2 separate regions of the Homo sapiens genome follow, and region 1 is linked to region 2. The links come from fine-mapping of genetic effects on gene expression. A gene starts in region 2. The other region holds a variant in brackets. All regions are shown on one strand. Distances are between the middles of the regions.

The links. PIP is the estimated chance that this variant, and not a neighbour inherited with it, causes the effect.
Region 1: its variant is fine-mapped to the expression of SOAT1 in whole blood (TOPMed, PIP 0.91).

What each region holds. Positions count from the first base shown.
Region 1 is chr1:179,572,286-179,580,615 of GRCh38, reverse strand. It overlaps NPHS2 (NPHS2 stomatin family member, podocin), which reads left to right and starts at 4,668. Exons shown (of 8, transcript NM_014625.4): 1 at 4,668-5,025. The coding sequence starts at 4,752. It also overlaps the pseudogene RNU5F-2P. The variant T/C (reference allele first, on the strand shown) is at 4,567.
Region 2 is chr1:179,289,814-179,298,143 of GRCh38, reverse strand. It overlaps SOAT1 (sterol O-acyltransferase 1), which reads right to left and starts at 4,347. Exons shown (of 16, transcript NM_003101.6): 1 at 4,208-4,347. RefSeq lists an enhancer at 3,643-4,150 and a silencer at 4,363-4,552.

The sequences.
Region 1 (8,330 bases), 280 kb before region 2:
TTGCCTCCTGGGTTCAAGCAGTTCTCTGCCTCAGCCTGCTGAGTAGCTGGGATTACAGGCACCTGCCACCATGCCTGGCTAATTTTTTGTATTTTTAGTAGAGATGGGGTTCACCATCTTGGCCAGGCTGGTCTTGAACTCCTGACCTCGTGATCCACCCACTTCAGCCTCCCAAAGTGCTGGGATTACAGGCGTGAGCCACTGCGCCCAGCCCAGAAATGTATCTTTAGTGGAAAAAACCCAGAAAGATGATAAAGTATATCGAAACCATCGCTGGCCAGGATCACTTCGCCATGTGCTGTTTCCTCTTCCATGTTTTTCTTTTGAAAATCCAGCACAGGATGCTGGAGCCAGAGTCAGCAGCTAGTGAAAGAGTCAGGATCTTGGCTTCAGAAACATAATCCCTCCTGAACTTTAAACCTAAATATTTCATTGTCCACTGTACATTTCTAGACAGATAACCTGCAGACACTTCTAGCTCAATACCTCTGAAGCTGAACTTGGCCCACCCACCTTTACACAAAATCTGTTTCCTTTTTTGTATTCCCTCAGTTGGATGTCAGCCCCATTCACCAGTCACTTTGATTAGAGTCCTGGGAGTCATCACTTTTCCCTGTAAACGTAACTCATATCCTCCCTCTCACCTGGACTGTTGCAAGAGTCTCCTCACTGGTCTCTCTGCCTCCATCCTCTTCCCATTTCTTTTTCTTTTCTTTTTTTTTTTTTTTTTTTTGAGACAGAGTCTCGCTCTGTCGCCCAGGCTGGAGTGCAGTGGTGTGATCTTAGCTCACTGCAAGCTCCACCTCCCAGATTCACACCATTCTCCTGCCTCAGCATCCCGAGTAGCTGGAACTACAGGTGCCTGCTACCACGCCCGGCTAATTTTTTTATTTTTTTATTTTTAGTAGAGATGGGGTTTCACCGTGTTAGCCAGGATGGTCTCGATCTCCTGATCTCGTGATCTGCCCACCTTGGCCTCCCAAAGTGCTGGAATTACAGGCGTGAGCCACCGCGCCAGGCCCATCCTCTTCCCATTTCAATTCACCTTCCACCTTGTCCATAAAGTGACTCTTCTCAATTGCAAATCTTACCATTTTCCTTCCTTACAATGTTTCAATAGCTTCTTTTGTCAATAAGATAAAATATAAGTTCTCTTATATGGTATAAAAGGCTTTTCATTTCTTGGGCTGCCTACCTCTCCGGCCTCCTCTTTTGACAGTTTGTCAAACCACTGATTGACCTGCTATCTTTTGTACTGTTTCCTCTGGCTGGAAGGCCCAGCTCTCAAAGTCCGCCTGAGGATCACCTACTCATCCCAGTATGGCCCAAACTGGATCCCCTCTGACTCCACTCAGGTAATGTTACTCACTCCCTTCTTTGTGTTCTCACAGTACCATATAGATCAGTGATTCTCAACCAGGAGCAATTTTGTTTGATGCCATGGGGAAAACACTTGGCAATATCTGAAGATAATTTTGGTCACCACAACTAGGGATGAAGTGCTACAGGCATCTGGTAGAGGCCAGGGATTTTGCTAACGATGCTGCGATGCTAATGATGCTGTTACAATGTACAAGACAGCCCTCCACAACAAAGAATCATCCAGTCCAAAATGTCAGTAGTGCTGAGGTTGAAAAACCTGGAGGTACAACACTTTATCACACTTGTCTGTTTACACATCTGTCTCTCCCTGTTATACTATACGCTCCTCAAGGGCATGCACCATGTCTTACCTTTAAATCCTCAGTGGTGAGCAGTGCAATACATGTAGTAGGTGCTCACTAAGTATCTATGGAGTGAATTGATTAGATAGAAGTTAAGTTAAGTCTCATCTTGTCCCTGCACCTAACAGGCCAACACCTGCATTTCAAAGCAAAGAGGGTAGGAACATAAGATGCTTGGGGTCAAAACAGTTAGGGGATGTGGATCAACCAAAGCAGCTGCAACTTCCGATCAGCTGCTAAGCCTATTAAGGTTGAACTCTCCATCTTTCTCAAGTCTTCTATCCCTTCATGGTCCCCACTCCATAATCCCATGAGACTACCACATTATTTTGATTTTCTCCCTCAGAAATATTTCCTGAATCCAAGCCATACCCACTGCCAAAGCTGCAGATCAGGCTCTCAGTTGCATCACTTTCCTAGACCACTATTGTGCCCTCCTATTTAGTCTCTCTGCCACCTACAAATTGAGAAAGTCAAATTTAGTAAGTCCTTATAGTTTCCAGCTCTAAAACAACAGGATTTGTAACATCATGTAGTGCCAATCAATTCCAGCCTTTCCATTAAATAATCCAAATGAATCAGTATTCATGCATTCACTTATTCATATGGATATAATACTTCAAAACACTAACTGGGAATAAGTGTAATACTTTAGAAAGCCTTGCACTCTTTCATAATCTTTCACCTTGGAAACATAAAAGTAAACAGCTTTAATTGATCCTCCCTTTCTTCTAGTAACCCAGTTCCCACAGATGTCAGTTTCTTAACAAATCCAAACAAGGAGTAAAGTATTGAGAGTTTCAGAATGTGTGCATATCATATTTTCAGCAAAGGGATGAGCAACACTTTCAATTAAAAAGGAATCTAAAAGAAAACAGCAGCATCCTTGTAAAAGTAGATGAGGACAGCCAGCTGGACTTAGCTGCTAACTCAGCACTCCCTTCCCCAACTCCTCCACCTTCCAGCCATGCTGCATTGACCTTTTTATCATGGAATGGTATGCAGCTTCTCTGATTTTGTCATTGTCACTCATAATCCCAGCAGACTTGTGTTATAAGCAGCTGCTTATATTGCTGTTATGTATAGATATAGAAATGTAACTTGTCAGTGGTCAAAGAAGCCAAGGAAACTGAGCAAAGGTGACTGAGAACAAGTGCTCAGCATGGGCTCCAACACCCAGTAGGGCCTTTTCTCATTGATTTTTCTCCTACAAGGAATTTCTCTCTTATTGAAAGACAGTACAGTTTGGGGAATATCATTTGACCAGATATCCTGCTCCATTCTTGGAATGAAAAACAGGTGCAATTTTAGTATAAGAGTCTAGCTAGGGATGCGGATGAAATTAATTTATAACAGGACCAGGCTGAGGAAAAACACCAATAAATGCTACAAATAGTTTGTCACTTTTTCTAACAGGGAAATCTCTAAAGGATGATAAAGATGCTAGCTGTGTTTAATAGCAAATGTTAATTTGGGGGAATATGAAATAATCATGATATCTTTCTCTCTTTGAGCCAAACGCAGCTTTGGAATTTTTCTCACTGTAGTGTTGTAGGCAGAAACTATCAACTGAGGCAGGCCCTTGCGAGGAAATATTTATCCTCCTTAGCCCATGCAATGATCAGGTTTAGACAGTAAAAAATCTATTTAAGTGACTGGATTGCTCATCTTTTATTTACTTTACTCCCAGTGGCCTAACCTGGAACATATAGAAGAAAGTAGTGGAATGGTTTTTCCAGACGCACTTCAGTTACTTCAGGTCCTCAGTGTTTAATAAGGTTTTGGGAGAGAAAAAAAGCTATTGCTGTGTGAATTCAATAAATATTTAAAAAATTTAAAAAATCAGTGAGCATTATTTCTGCCATCATGTGATCTGAACTATCTGAGTAGTATCATAAATCTTGGGTGATGGGTTACCTTGACCAACCTCCCTTTCAGTAAGAAACAAATTATTAACAGAAAGTGAAAGAGAAATAAACCTATTCAATGTTTCAAGTCCCTCAGAAGAGGGTGAGGCAGCTCCCCAGATCGTTGCTAGATCCAGCCTGGCCAATGAACCCTGAAAAAGCCCAACTCCTGCTTTCATCATGGAAGCACGGGACAAAGTGTCTCTTCCTAAAAACAGAAGTTAGACCAGACCCCTTCCTGCCTATGATTCTTCAAGAAGCATTGCATCATCAACATCAGGCATAAGCATTAATAAAGACCCTAAATAATAACAGAGACGAAACACATCGCAAAGAGAGTTTTCTTTTATCCCCTTTAAAATGTAAATACTCCCAGGAGGAATCAGCCAACATCATTAGGGGTTAATGCATATGTAGAATAACTAGGGCCAGGATATAAAATAAGAAATACGTAGGGAGGAGAGAAAGGCATCCTTGAGACGACTCCAAGAAGGAAAGTTGGGGATGAGGCGAAATTTCTGATTTTACCTTAAAGTGACCCTAATTCGATGACCTTTTGTGGTTTTTTTCTTTTTTCTTTTTTCTTTTTTACTTGGCCCTGCCCAAGCAGGACCTAAAAACAAACAGACAAAAAAGGTTACTAACAACTGTTCCTCTCCACGAAAATCTGCAGTAAAAGGTAAAAGATGTATTCGTTTTGAAGAGAAACCAGAGCTTGCGATGAGCTTCTGTATCTCCGTCAGCCCTCTAGCATGACATTAGGAACCCTCCAGGAGATGAGTCTTCACAGCCCGGGTTGGCACCTGCAGACACGCACTTTTCAACGCCCGCACCCTGCCCGGGGCCGGCTCTCCCACCCAGGCCTCTCTCTGCTTCAGCGCCGCCCCGGCCGTGGGAGTCGGCGGGCGCAGTCCACAGCTCCACCAAGACACAGC[T/C]GTCGGGGTTCCGGGTGCGCCCCGCCCGCGGCCCCGGTGTCCCGCCCCTCGCCCTCAGCCCCCACCCGACGGTCTTTAGGGTCCCCCGGGCACGCCACGCGGACCCGCAGCGACTCCACAGGGACTGCGCTCCCGTGCCCCTAGCGCTCCCGCGCTGCTGCTCCAGCCGCCCGGCAGCTCTGAGGATGGAGAGGAGGGCGCGGAGCTCCTCCAGGGAGTCCCGCGGGCGAGGCGGCAGGACTCCGCACAAGGAGAACAAGAGGGCAAAGGCCGAGAGGAGCGGCGGAGGCCGCGGGCGCCAGGAGGCTGGGCCCGAGCCGTCGGGCTCCGGACGGGCGGGGACCCCGGGGGAGCCCCGAGCGCCCGCCGCCACGGTGGTGGACGTGGATGAGGTCCGAGGCTCCGGCGAGGAGGGCACCGAGGTGGTGGCGCTGTTGGAGAGCGAGCGGCCCGAGGAAGGTACGGATTCAGCACCACTATCTGCTACTTTTCCAGGTGGTAACTAAGGGGCGTCAGATAAGGTGGAAAGGGTCATCCCCACGAGACCCACTGAAGCCAGAGCAGATTGCTGGATGCTCAGGTTCCCAGGAACGGAAGGGCGTAAGTTAGGAACCCAGCAACCTGCTATGGTGAGCAAAGAACATCAGAAGAAATACAAATATCACTATATACTGGTCTCGGGGCCAGCCTTGGATGGGACTGGGGAGCGAGTGTGGTACAGGTTGGGGACGAAGCAACTTGGCAAAGGAGCCATGGACTTGGTTTTTGTGGCCATGGAGGGGCATACGGGCACCTAATTTAAGTAAAGACATGCACGAGCTGGTGGCTGTAGGCTGTAGGCTTATTCTTCTTCCAGCGTCCCCACCCCTCGGTCTTACCTAAAAGCATTTTAAACTTCTGGGAAGATGATCATTCTTTCTGAAAAGCAGTCGCAGCAGAGCCAAGTGAGGAAGAGCCACACCTGAGTTTAAATCACAGCTCAACCACTTGCTAGCCATGTGATCATAGGAAGGACCTTAACCATCTCTCCTATAACAGTACCTGCCTCAGAGGGTAGTGGTAAGGATACAATGAGAAAAGGCATCCAAAGCACTTTGCACAAAGTCTGGAACAAAAACTTACTCAATTCCAGCTGCAAGCTAAGAGAGAGGAAAATTAGATCAAAGGAGGGAATGCAAAGAAAGGTGTCTCTTTTGCTTCTGCAGGAGAAACAACTCTTGGGAAAATTTTGTCTACCTCCAGTCTTTTTTATAATGAGTGGAAGAAAAAAATGATTACCACTTTAGTGGGATGACAGGTGTTAAAAGAAATTAAATAAGGAATAGTGTGTTATATTGCTTCCTGCTGGCTCTGAAGTTTTAACATTTCCTAGTTACCAGCAAAGCAGTACATGCTGGATCACTGAAAGCTACCATTTAAGGAAGATTTCTGCAGTTGGGGTATAATTTAAATGGGTCACGTTAATACTGTTTTGCCCAGTTGATGATACCCTTTCATCAGTCAGAAACCTCTGTTCAGTAAATGGTTGCTGGGTTCAATGCTGAGGTTAGAGGGCTTGTAACTGTGAGGCAGCAGATCACACTGGTAGGGTAGACAAGTAAGGAAGCCACCATTTATGAAACCCCTACTATATGCCAGGCACACACTGGGTGTTTTACTGAGTTATTTAATCTCTCACCATCCTCTTATCACAGATGAGGAAACATGCTCTGAGAAATTAAGTAACATGCCCAAGTCGTGTAGCTGGGAAGTAGAGAAGCCAAAATCCCAGAGTAAGACAGTCTGATTGAAATGCTCACCCTTGCTTGCTGCTGCCCCTCATTTCTGGTCATGGTCCTATAGCTGTGGCCTTGGGCACCTTTTTGGGCCTCAGTCCCTACAGCTACAGAGTAACAAAAGCAGGAGACCTCAAGCAATGGGCGAGCAGTCCCACTAAGGATGAAGTGACCTTTGCTGAGCCCTTGTGTGGGAGGTTTCTGAAGCTCACGGGGAACAGAGAGTAACATCCCCTCCTCTTTTTCACCTAGCACCACACTCCCAAAGGCAGGCTACTTAAGACGGGAGAAATGAAAAGGCGCTTCACCTCACCAAAATGTTGGGGACTCTCAGACAATGTTTAAAGGTTTTCCTGCTTGAATAATTAATGTTTCACTATTCACTTAAACCAAACAAGTTGGATATTCAAGCAACTTATTCTAACAGAATAATATTTTGGGGGTAAATCTTCACGTTAGGTTTGAGGATATAAATTAGTTTTCTACGCATATCTCTCGCTACTGTATGAAGGAATTTTTGAGGCCTTTCTTCATTTATAAAATGTAATTTTGTATATGCATTTATTTATTTTTACTTGCCATGGCTACCACTGGTAACTGAAACATATTTATGAACTAATTAAAACTGGCAATGATACTGTTAGTCATTGTCCTTGAAAGAGAATATTATAAAAATTAATATGTTGGTAGAGCAGCATTTCCCAGAGTAGGTTCCATGAGAAATAAGTTCCATAGAATATCAATGAGCGTTCCTTAGAGAAAATATTACCTGGTCAAATGTGTGTAAACAAAGCTAAGAATGCTTTGCGAGATTCTCATAGCTTCAATGTCCTGAAGAGCACTGGGAACTCCAGGAATGGGATGTAGTGCCTAGTATTCTCTAAACTCATTTGCCCAGGAAGTTCTTCTTTGGTGGAGCACTCCGTGGGATTAGTATTTCGTAGGATGGCCTTTAGAAACTGCCATACTATGGTATTCAGTGCTGATTTTGTTTTTGTGCTGGTGCAGCTTGCATCTCTGTCCTCTTCTTCAAGTGATCTGCACATCAATTTGGTGGTGACCTTTCTGGGGCATGAAAATCAAATTTTCAGGCCTACTAATTAGTTATCCCCTTTGTCCCCATCTCTTAAAAATAAGATTTTAGGCCAGGTGCCATAGCTCATACCTATAATCCCAGCACTTAGGGAGGCTGAGGTGAGAGGATCACTTGAGGCTTGGAGTTTGAGACCAGCCTGGGCAAAATAGCGAGACCCCATCTCTGCAAAAAAATAAATTAGCCAGGTAAGGTGGCATGCACCTGTAGTCCCAGCTACTTGAGAGGCTAAGGTGGGGGGACTGCTTGAGCCCAGGAGGCCGAGGATGCAGAAAGCCATGATTGCATCACTGCACTCCAGCCTGGAGAGAGCAAGACCCAGTCTCAAAAGAGAGAAAAAAAGAAGGAAAGATGAAAGAAAAGAAAGAAAGAAAGAAGGGAAGGAGGGAGGGAAGGAGGGAGGAAGGGAAGGAAGGAAGGAAAGAAGGAAGGAAGAAAGGAAGGAAAGTAGACTACCATTTCCTAATTTTTAGTCACCTTCTAGTCCTCTACGATCTTTTTAAACTGGCAAATAATATTGCTTTAGTAAGTTTTCTAGTACCTGGAGGTTAAAATTCTTGAAATTTTCATAACTCTTACATTTAAATCATTTTCATTCCTCCTTTCTTCTCACACTCAACTAATATTTATTGAGCACATGTATGGTGCCAGGCACTATTCTAAGCCCTGGGGGCATACTGTAAATAAGACAAGACCCCAAGAAGCTTGTGTTCTTGAGACTGACTCTCCTTGATATTGTTTCATTTATCACCCAAGCATCTTGGATGTTCTGAACCCCAGTTCCTTATCACTTTTTTATACATATTAGTAGGTGAATATTACCCCATAAAGTTAATTTTCAAAGACTATTGAGATCAACACCTTAATGGAGGTGTTAAAATGATGGAACTTCAGAC
Region 2 (8,330 bases):
CATTGCACTCAAGTTAGATCAAGTCACTTCACAACTTAAACCCCTTCAAACATCCTAAGTCCTTACCATGATCTAGTAACTTCTGCATTGCCTGCCACTCACCACCACCCCCTTAAACACCATCAATCTTTTTTTTTTTTTGAGACAGAGTTTCACTCTTGTTGGTCAGACTGGAGTGCAATGGCACGATCTCAGCTCACCGCAACCTCCGCCTCCTGGATTCAAGCGATTCTCCTGCCTCAGCCTCTGGAGCAGCTGGGGTTACAGGCCACCACACCCAGCTAATTTTGTATTTTTAGTAGAGATGGGGTGTCGAACTCCCAACCTCAGGTGATCCGCCTGCCTCGGCCTCCCAAAGTGCTGGGATTACAGGTGTGAGCCACCGCGCCCGGCATTTTTTTTTTTTTTTTGAGACGGAGTCATGCCATGTCGCCCAGGTTGAAGTGCAGTGGCATGATCTTGGCTGTCTCATTTTCTCTACTCATTACTTTGGCCTTCCACTGTTTCTTAAACAAGCGCACCGGCTCACGCCTGTAATCCCAGCACTTTGGGAGGCTGAGGCGGGTGGATCACAAGGTCAGGAATTCTAGACTGGCCTGGCCAAGATGATGAAACCCCGTCTCTACTAAAAATACAAAAAATTAGCCAGGGGTGATGGCAGGTGCCTGTAATCCCAGCTACTCGGGAGGCCGAAGCAGAGAATTGCTTGAACCCAGGAGGCGGAGGTTGCAGTGAGCCGAGATCGCGCCACTGCACTCCAGCCTGGGTGACAGAGCTGGACTCCGTCTCAAAAAAGAAAAGAAAAGGACAGGACATGGGATATTTCACAATTGGGGGACATTAATAGCTATGATTTGATTACATGCACAGTTTTAGGAGGAAGGACAAATAAATATATTGGAGTACACCGCCAGTAAGTTGAGGAAGTGAAAACAGTGATCATAAGACTAGTCTCTCAAGAGGTCTAGCAGTGAAGGAATCTCTAGCGTTTAGGAAGCAGGTAACAAAGTGCTGAGTGCAGTAGGTGTAGCACATATCTCATTTAACATGTCCATTTTTAAAGATGCAGGAGATTCAGAAATGCTAACAAACTTGTTCAAAGTCACAGGTAACATAAAGCTATTCCCCCCCAGGTAACAAAGCTAAGTAGACAGCTATTTATACAACACACTGATTGAAAAAGAATTTCTTAAGAATCTAATCTGTGCACGCAATTACATAATGTTCAGTGTGATAAGCATCTAACTTATCTTAAGAAAGCAAAACAAAAAGAAATGATTTGAGAAACAAATGAACTTGGAAAGACATGTCAACTTTAGCCTGCCTCCGTGTTCCCATTAATACAGCTTTCAAAAGAGCCCATAAATCTGTATCACAAATACTGAGTGCCTACTCCAGGTAAAGAACTTTGCCACATCACCCTTAGATTCAGTGGTGGAAAGGGGACACAACTGTGGATAGAATTTACAATCCAGAGCAAAAAAAATTTCCCTCTGGCACCCAAAGGTTGGCCCTAACACAACGCTACAACTTTTACATATCACAGAACTAGGTCTTTAAGTAATTAGCAAAACTAAAGAACAAGAACAAATTCTCATTTACATCTGTATGGTTAGTATAATCTCTTATTAACCAATGTGGCAAAAAAAATGCAAAACAAAGCCATCCTCTTAGAAAAATAGAACTTGGCTGGTCTTTGTTAAAAACTTTTTCCCATAGGAAAAAGGGACTCTTCCCTGGTTAATACAGTAGTTCTCCCATATCCATGGGGGATACGGTCCAAGACTCCCAGTGGATGCCTAGAACTGTGAATAACAGTGAACCCAATACACGTTGTTTTTTCCTATACATACCTATTATAAAGTTTCATTTACAGGCTGGGCACAGTGGCTCACGCCTGTAATCCCACCTCTTTGGGAGGCCGAGGCAGACCGATCATCTGAGATCAGGAGTTTGAGACCAGTCTGGCCAACACAGTGAAACCCTCCCTGTCTCTACTAAAAATACAAAAATTAGCCGGGTGAGCTGGGCGCGGTGGCTCACGCCTGTAATCCCAGCACTTTGGGAGGCTGAGGCGGGTGGATCACCTGAGGTTGGAAGTTCGAGACCAGCCTGACCAGTAAGATCTGATCAGTCTTTACTAAAAAAAAAAAAAAAAAAAAAAAAAAAAAAAAAAATTAGCCGGGCGTGGTAGCACATGCCCGTAATCCCAGCTACTTGGGAGGCTGAGGCGGAGAATCGCTTGAACCCGGGAGGCGGAGGTTGCGGGGAGCCGAGATCGTGCCATTCCAGCCTGGGCAACAAGCGCCAAACTCCATCTCAAAAAAAAAAAAAAAAATTAGCCGGGCGTACTGGGACACGCCTGTAATCCCAGCTACTTGGGAGGCTGGGGCATGAATATCCCTTGAACCTGGGAGGCAAAGTTTCAAAAAGTTAGGCACAGTAAGAGATTAACAATATACTGTATTAAAATTCACTTGAACATGGTATCTCTCGAAATGTCTTATTGTACTCTGTTTCGCACCTCAGGTAGCTGAAACTACAGAAAGCAGTTAAGTGGGGATCACTGTATTTCTCATTCAAAAGTTCCTTCCTCTGTCCACCAACTTATTCATTCTTTCTCTGGGCCAAGTGCTGGACCAGACCCTGAAAATTACAACAGGCTAAACCAGCCTTCATGAAATGCACTAGCAGAGGAAACAAAGCAACTAATTCATTACAATTAATGATCAACTTCTGCTAAGGAGAATAAAGAGTTCATGGAGGGCTTAATGGGGATGGGGTGATTTCCAGAGGAAGTGATATGTGGGCTGATATCTGAGGCAGGTATAAGAGTTGGAGGGAGGGAGAGAATACAGCATTAGAGGTGGAGGAAACTCCTAAAAGCCAAGAGAGGAAAGAAAATGAAGCTTTCCAGTAACAAAAATAAAGCCAGTGTGGCATGAACCTGGAAAGCCAGAAGGAAAGTGGGCCAAATGAACCAGAGATAGAGTGTGCTCACTCAGTAGGTCTTTATCCTAAAAGACTGCGAAACCTCAGATGCATTCTAAGCATGTGATTCACTAAAACACGTGCATTTCTAAACGATAATTCAGTGCCACAGAGCTCCTTCCAAAACCCATTCTCACACCCAGACAACGCACAGACTTCCTTAACAAGTCATTCACTGACACCGCCCAACTTTTAAAAAGAAAAAAAAAAAGCTTCAAATTGAATTCTACTTCAAGGAAGAGGAAATCAAGCAGGCTGAAAAAAAGAAAAAAGTGGTTTAAACAGGTGGCAGCCACTTAAATATTAAAAAGTGACCAACAGGCCAGGCGCGGTGGCTCACGCCTGTAATCCCAGCACTTTGGGAGGCCGAAGCGGGCGGATCACTTGAGGTCAGGAGTTTGAGACCAACCTGGTCCAACATGGTGAAACCCCGTCTCTACTAAAACTACAAAAATTACCTGGGCGTGGTGGCGCACGCCTGTAATCCCAGCTACTCAGGAGGCTGAGGCACAAGAATCGCTTGAACCCGGGAGGCAGAGGTTGCAGTGAGCCGAGATTGCGCCACTGCACTCCAGCCTTGCGACACAGCGAGACTCCGTCTCAAACAAACAAAAGTGACCAACGAACTTAACCTAAATATATATACGGAGAATAAAGTTTATATAGTTGTTTCTCACTTAGAAATAACCTTTCAATATACATATTATTTAAATTACATGACCATTAACACTTAGGGAAAACAGAAACTTACCTACATCCTAATATTTTACAATAAAACATGAGCTTGATTAAAGGTTCTGGTGCCCCTACAGATTTTCATGTCTTGCTAATACCATCCTTCCCTTCACACATTTTCTCTAAATCATTAAAAAGCTGACTTCCTGAGTGCATTTTTGGTTTCGCTTTTTAAAGAATAAAACGTCTTCTAATTCCTAACTTTCTTTACTACTGACTTGAGAGATGCCACGAGATTTGCGGAACACCAAACCAGCGTGCAGGGTTTAAAAGGCTGCCCGTGACCCGGGCGCCTGACGGTAACTTTCCCGCCCTCCCCTCCCCAACTCCCCTGCAGTCGCCGAGCCTCGCCTTCTCCGCAGCACAGCCCAGGACAAGGCCGGGCCGGAGCTGCTGCCGCCACCGCTTCTCCCTTCCCCGCGGGCTGAGGCCGGTGGACCCAAGCGGGAAGCGAGGAGAGGCGCGGGAGCACCACCGTTACCTGAGGCCCGCGCCCGGCAGCGGGCACTTCGGCCAAGAGGGCAGAGCCGGGAAGCGGTCACAGAGCAGCCAGCAGGAAGGTCGACTCCGGGAAGCTCTCCTGGCGCCCAGGGCCCGCAACGTCGCCTGCTAAGCTAAAGCGCCGGACAGCCCGGCCCCTACGCCCCCTGCCTCCGAGCACCGCTGCGTCACGCGCAGGGCCACCTCCGGCTGAGCATCCTATTGGTGGTCCCCAGGTTGCCAGGCTCCGCCCACCTCCCCGCCCCTTCCCGGGCGCGCGGGTCCCCGGCGCCAGTGCTCGCAGGCTGGCCCTGGCAACCTGCCAAGGAAGCTTCTCACCCGGACATCATGATACCGGCGACAACATCTTGCTTGACACTTCCACCCCAGCAGTAGAATGTGCAGCCAAAACGGGACTGCGACAACTCCCTGCAAGCCCGAAACGGCACCCTGCGTGGTAGCATGGAGCTGCAGGGGCGTTTGGCTCCTAGGCCGACTGGAAGAAGCCGCTTCTGGAGCTGTGGATCATTGCAGTTTGAACTGACCATCCAGGAACAACGTAGAACTAGCCAGAAGCAAGAATCGCTGGCTTATCTGCACACCAAGATTCGTGCCTTTATCAGGAGATTCCTTACCGTTTGAAAACCAGCGTCCTTCAGCAACATTCAAACTAGATAAGGGGAAAAAACCTGCACCAAATAATAAAACACACCAAATAATGGAACAACTAAGTAATATTTAAGGGCCCTTGAGGCCAGGTGCGGTGGCTCACGCCTGTAATCCCAACACTTTGGGAGACCGAGGTGGCTGGGTCACCTGAGGTTAGGATCGAGACCAGCCTGACCAACATGGTGAAACCCCGTCTCTACTAAATACAAAAAATTAGCCGGGCTTGGTGGCGCGCGCCTGTAATCCCAGCTATTCGGGAGGCTGAGGCAGGAGGATTGCTTGAACCCGGAAGCCAGAGGTTGCAGTGAGCCTAGATTGTGCCATTGCACTCCAGCCTGGGCAATAAGAGCTAAACTCCTTCTCAAAAAAAGTTTTAAAAATAAAATAAACAAAGGGCCCTCGTGACTTCATAATCAAAAGAAGAATGATGCAGAGAGATTTGGGACAGAGATTAAATACAACAGTTAATCGCTTGGAATTTGTGAAGGCAGAGGTGTACGTAAATTTAGGGTAAAGGTAGGTGAAAAGGCAATGATGAGAGGAGCAGAGACTGAAGAGTCGCACTCACAGCCTGCAAACTAATACCAGCTAGCCTGGCCTGACTAATCGCTTCTTCCCCACTCCTCCCCAGGACAAAAATCCCTGAACAAACAGATGAGGTTTAGCAGAACTGACTACTCTCTGGGTCCTTTAAACAAAGTGGATTTGTACACGTTCCCTTGGCCACCCAGCAGGCTGCACTGTTCACTCAAAGCAGAAATGGCCCTCAGCATCCAGTCGAGTTTAGTACTGGCTGTCATTGGCAGATCTGCTCCGTTTGGCCTCTTCTACAACTGTGATTGCCACGTGTGCTGACTAGTTGGTGACAGGGTCTGGTAGACCCCCAGCTGCTTCCCCTCCCCACTCCCACTAGTTATAGAGCAGTAGGAACATAGGCACTCATTTCTATTGGGTCTCTGTTGGCTACCTTCTATATACACCAAGATGACTGGCCTTTTCACTGTTTGATTCATTCATTCAAAAAATATTGATAGTATTCTTGGTGCTAGAAATACAGTGGTGAATAAACAGAAGAAGCCCCTGCACTTAGAGGCTTATGTTCTGCAGGACTAGGTATGAAAGGAAACAAACAGGTGGCTCAAGCCTATAATCCCAGCACTTTGGGAGGCTGAGGCAGGAGGATCACTTTGAGGCCAGGAGTCCAAGACCAGCCTGAGCAACATAGTGAGACTCCCTCTCTACAGAATTTAAAAACAACAACAACAACAACAACAATGACAACAAAATTTGCTGGGAATTGTGGCAGGCCCCTATGGTCCCAGCTACTCGGGAGGCTGAGATAAGAGGATTGCTTGTGGTGGGGGATGGGGGGTGAGGGACGGAGGATGCAGTGAGCCAAAAAATCATGCCACTGCACTGCAGCCTGGTCAACACAGTGGGACTCTGTCTCAAACAACAAAAGCTTATGTTTCTAATGAAGAATATAAATAATAAAACGAATAGATGAGATAATCACTGGCAGTGATAAGTACTGAGCAGAAAACAAAACAGAATGGTCAGGGAAGGATTTTCTGAGGAGATAATTCAGGAGCTAAGACCTAAATGACAAGAAGGAGCCAGCCAAGCCAACCATGGGGAGGAAGAACATTCTAGACAGAGGATAATGGGTGTCAAGGCCCCGATGCTGAACTGTGGCTGATGCTGAAGCGTGGCTGTTTGAGGAACAGGCCAGGAGGCTTGAGCATGTCAAATAGGGGTTTGAAGTTGAGTTTGGAGCATTAAGCAGGAACCTAATCACGTTGTTTGGATTTATCTGTTAAGTGCAAAGGCAAGATAATGAAGGGTTTGGGTTTTTGTTGTTTTGAGATGGGGTCTCACTCTGTCGCCCAGGCTGGAGTGCAGTGGTGCAATCAGGGCTCACTGCATCCTCTACCTCCCCAGGCTCGCTAAGTCATCTTCCCACCTCAGCCTCCCTAGTACCTGGGACTACAGGTGGGCGTCACCACACCAGACTAATTTTTGTATTTTTTGTAGAGACAGGGTTTCGCTGTGTTGCCCAGGCTGGTCCTGAACTCCTGGGCTCAAGTGATCCTCCCGCCTCAGCCTCCCAAACTGCTGGGATTACAGGCATGAGCCACGTGCCCGGCCATTGGTTTATTTTTTTTTTTAAATCAACCTATTTTATAGAGAATGACTTGAAGGGAGCAGCAATGGAACAAAAAGGAGCCGAAGAACAATACAAAGTTATTGGGCAAGTTCAGGGGGTAGATGGTGGTACCTGGACTAGGCTGGTTGGTGTGGAAATAGAAATTGAAAGATTTCAGGATATTTTCCCGAGGTGCAGGTGTGAAGAAAGGTAGTAAACGAGATGACTCCCAGGTTGTTTCCTTAAGCAATTGAGAGGATGGGGATACCATTTAGTGCAAGGGCAAAGATGATATATGATTGGAGGGACTCCAAAGCCTGTGCTCAGACTCCAAGCCTCTCCCACCACTGCACTGAAAATCTCACATTACTCAATCCTTGGAAATCAAGGTTTGGTTAAATGCAAGTGTTGACTTCATCATATTGAAAAAAAAACAGGTGTACAGAACTTGTATAGTTGCTAGTGCTAAGAATATGAATAAGACTGTCTATTGGAGACACTAATAGGTATAAGCCATTTCAAAACAATGAGATAAGTGTTACAATAAAAGGATGTTAAAGGCCAGGCGTGGTCGCTCACACCTGTAATCTCAGCACTTTGGGAGGCCAAGGTGGGCGGATCACCTGAGGTCAGGAGTTCGAGACCAGCTTGGCCAACATGGTGAAAACCTGTCTCTACTAAAAATACAAAAAATTAGCCGGGTGTGGTGGCAGGCGCCTATAATCCTAGCTACTTGGGAGGCTGAGGCAGGAGAATCTCTTGAACCTGGGAGGCAGAGGTTGCAGTGAGCCGAGATCGCGCCACTGCACTCCATCCTGGGCAACAGAGCAAGACTCCCTCTCAAAAAGAAAAAAAGAAAAAGATGTTAAAAAAAATTCTTTACAGTGGCTCATGCCTGTAATCCCAGCACTTTGGGAGGCCGAGGTGGGCAGATCACTTGAGGCCATGAGTTCGAGACCAGCCTGGCCAACATGGCAAAACCCCATCTCTACTAAAAATACAAAAAATTAGCTGGGTGTGGTGGCAGGCACCTATAATCCCAGCTACTTGGGAGGCTGAGGCAGGAGAATCGCTTGAACCCGGGAAGTAGAGGTTGCAGTGAGCCGAGATTGCGCCACTGCACTCCAGCCTGGGTGACAGAGCGAAACTCTGTCTCGAAAAAAAGGCTGGGCGCAGTGGCTCACCCCTGTAATCCCAGCACTTTGGGAGGCTGAGGGGGGGCAGATCACCAGGTCAGGAGTTTGAGACCAGCCTGACCAACTTGCTGAAATCCCATCTCTACTAAAAATACAAAAAAAAAAATTAGCCG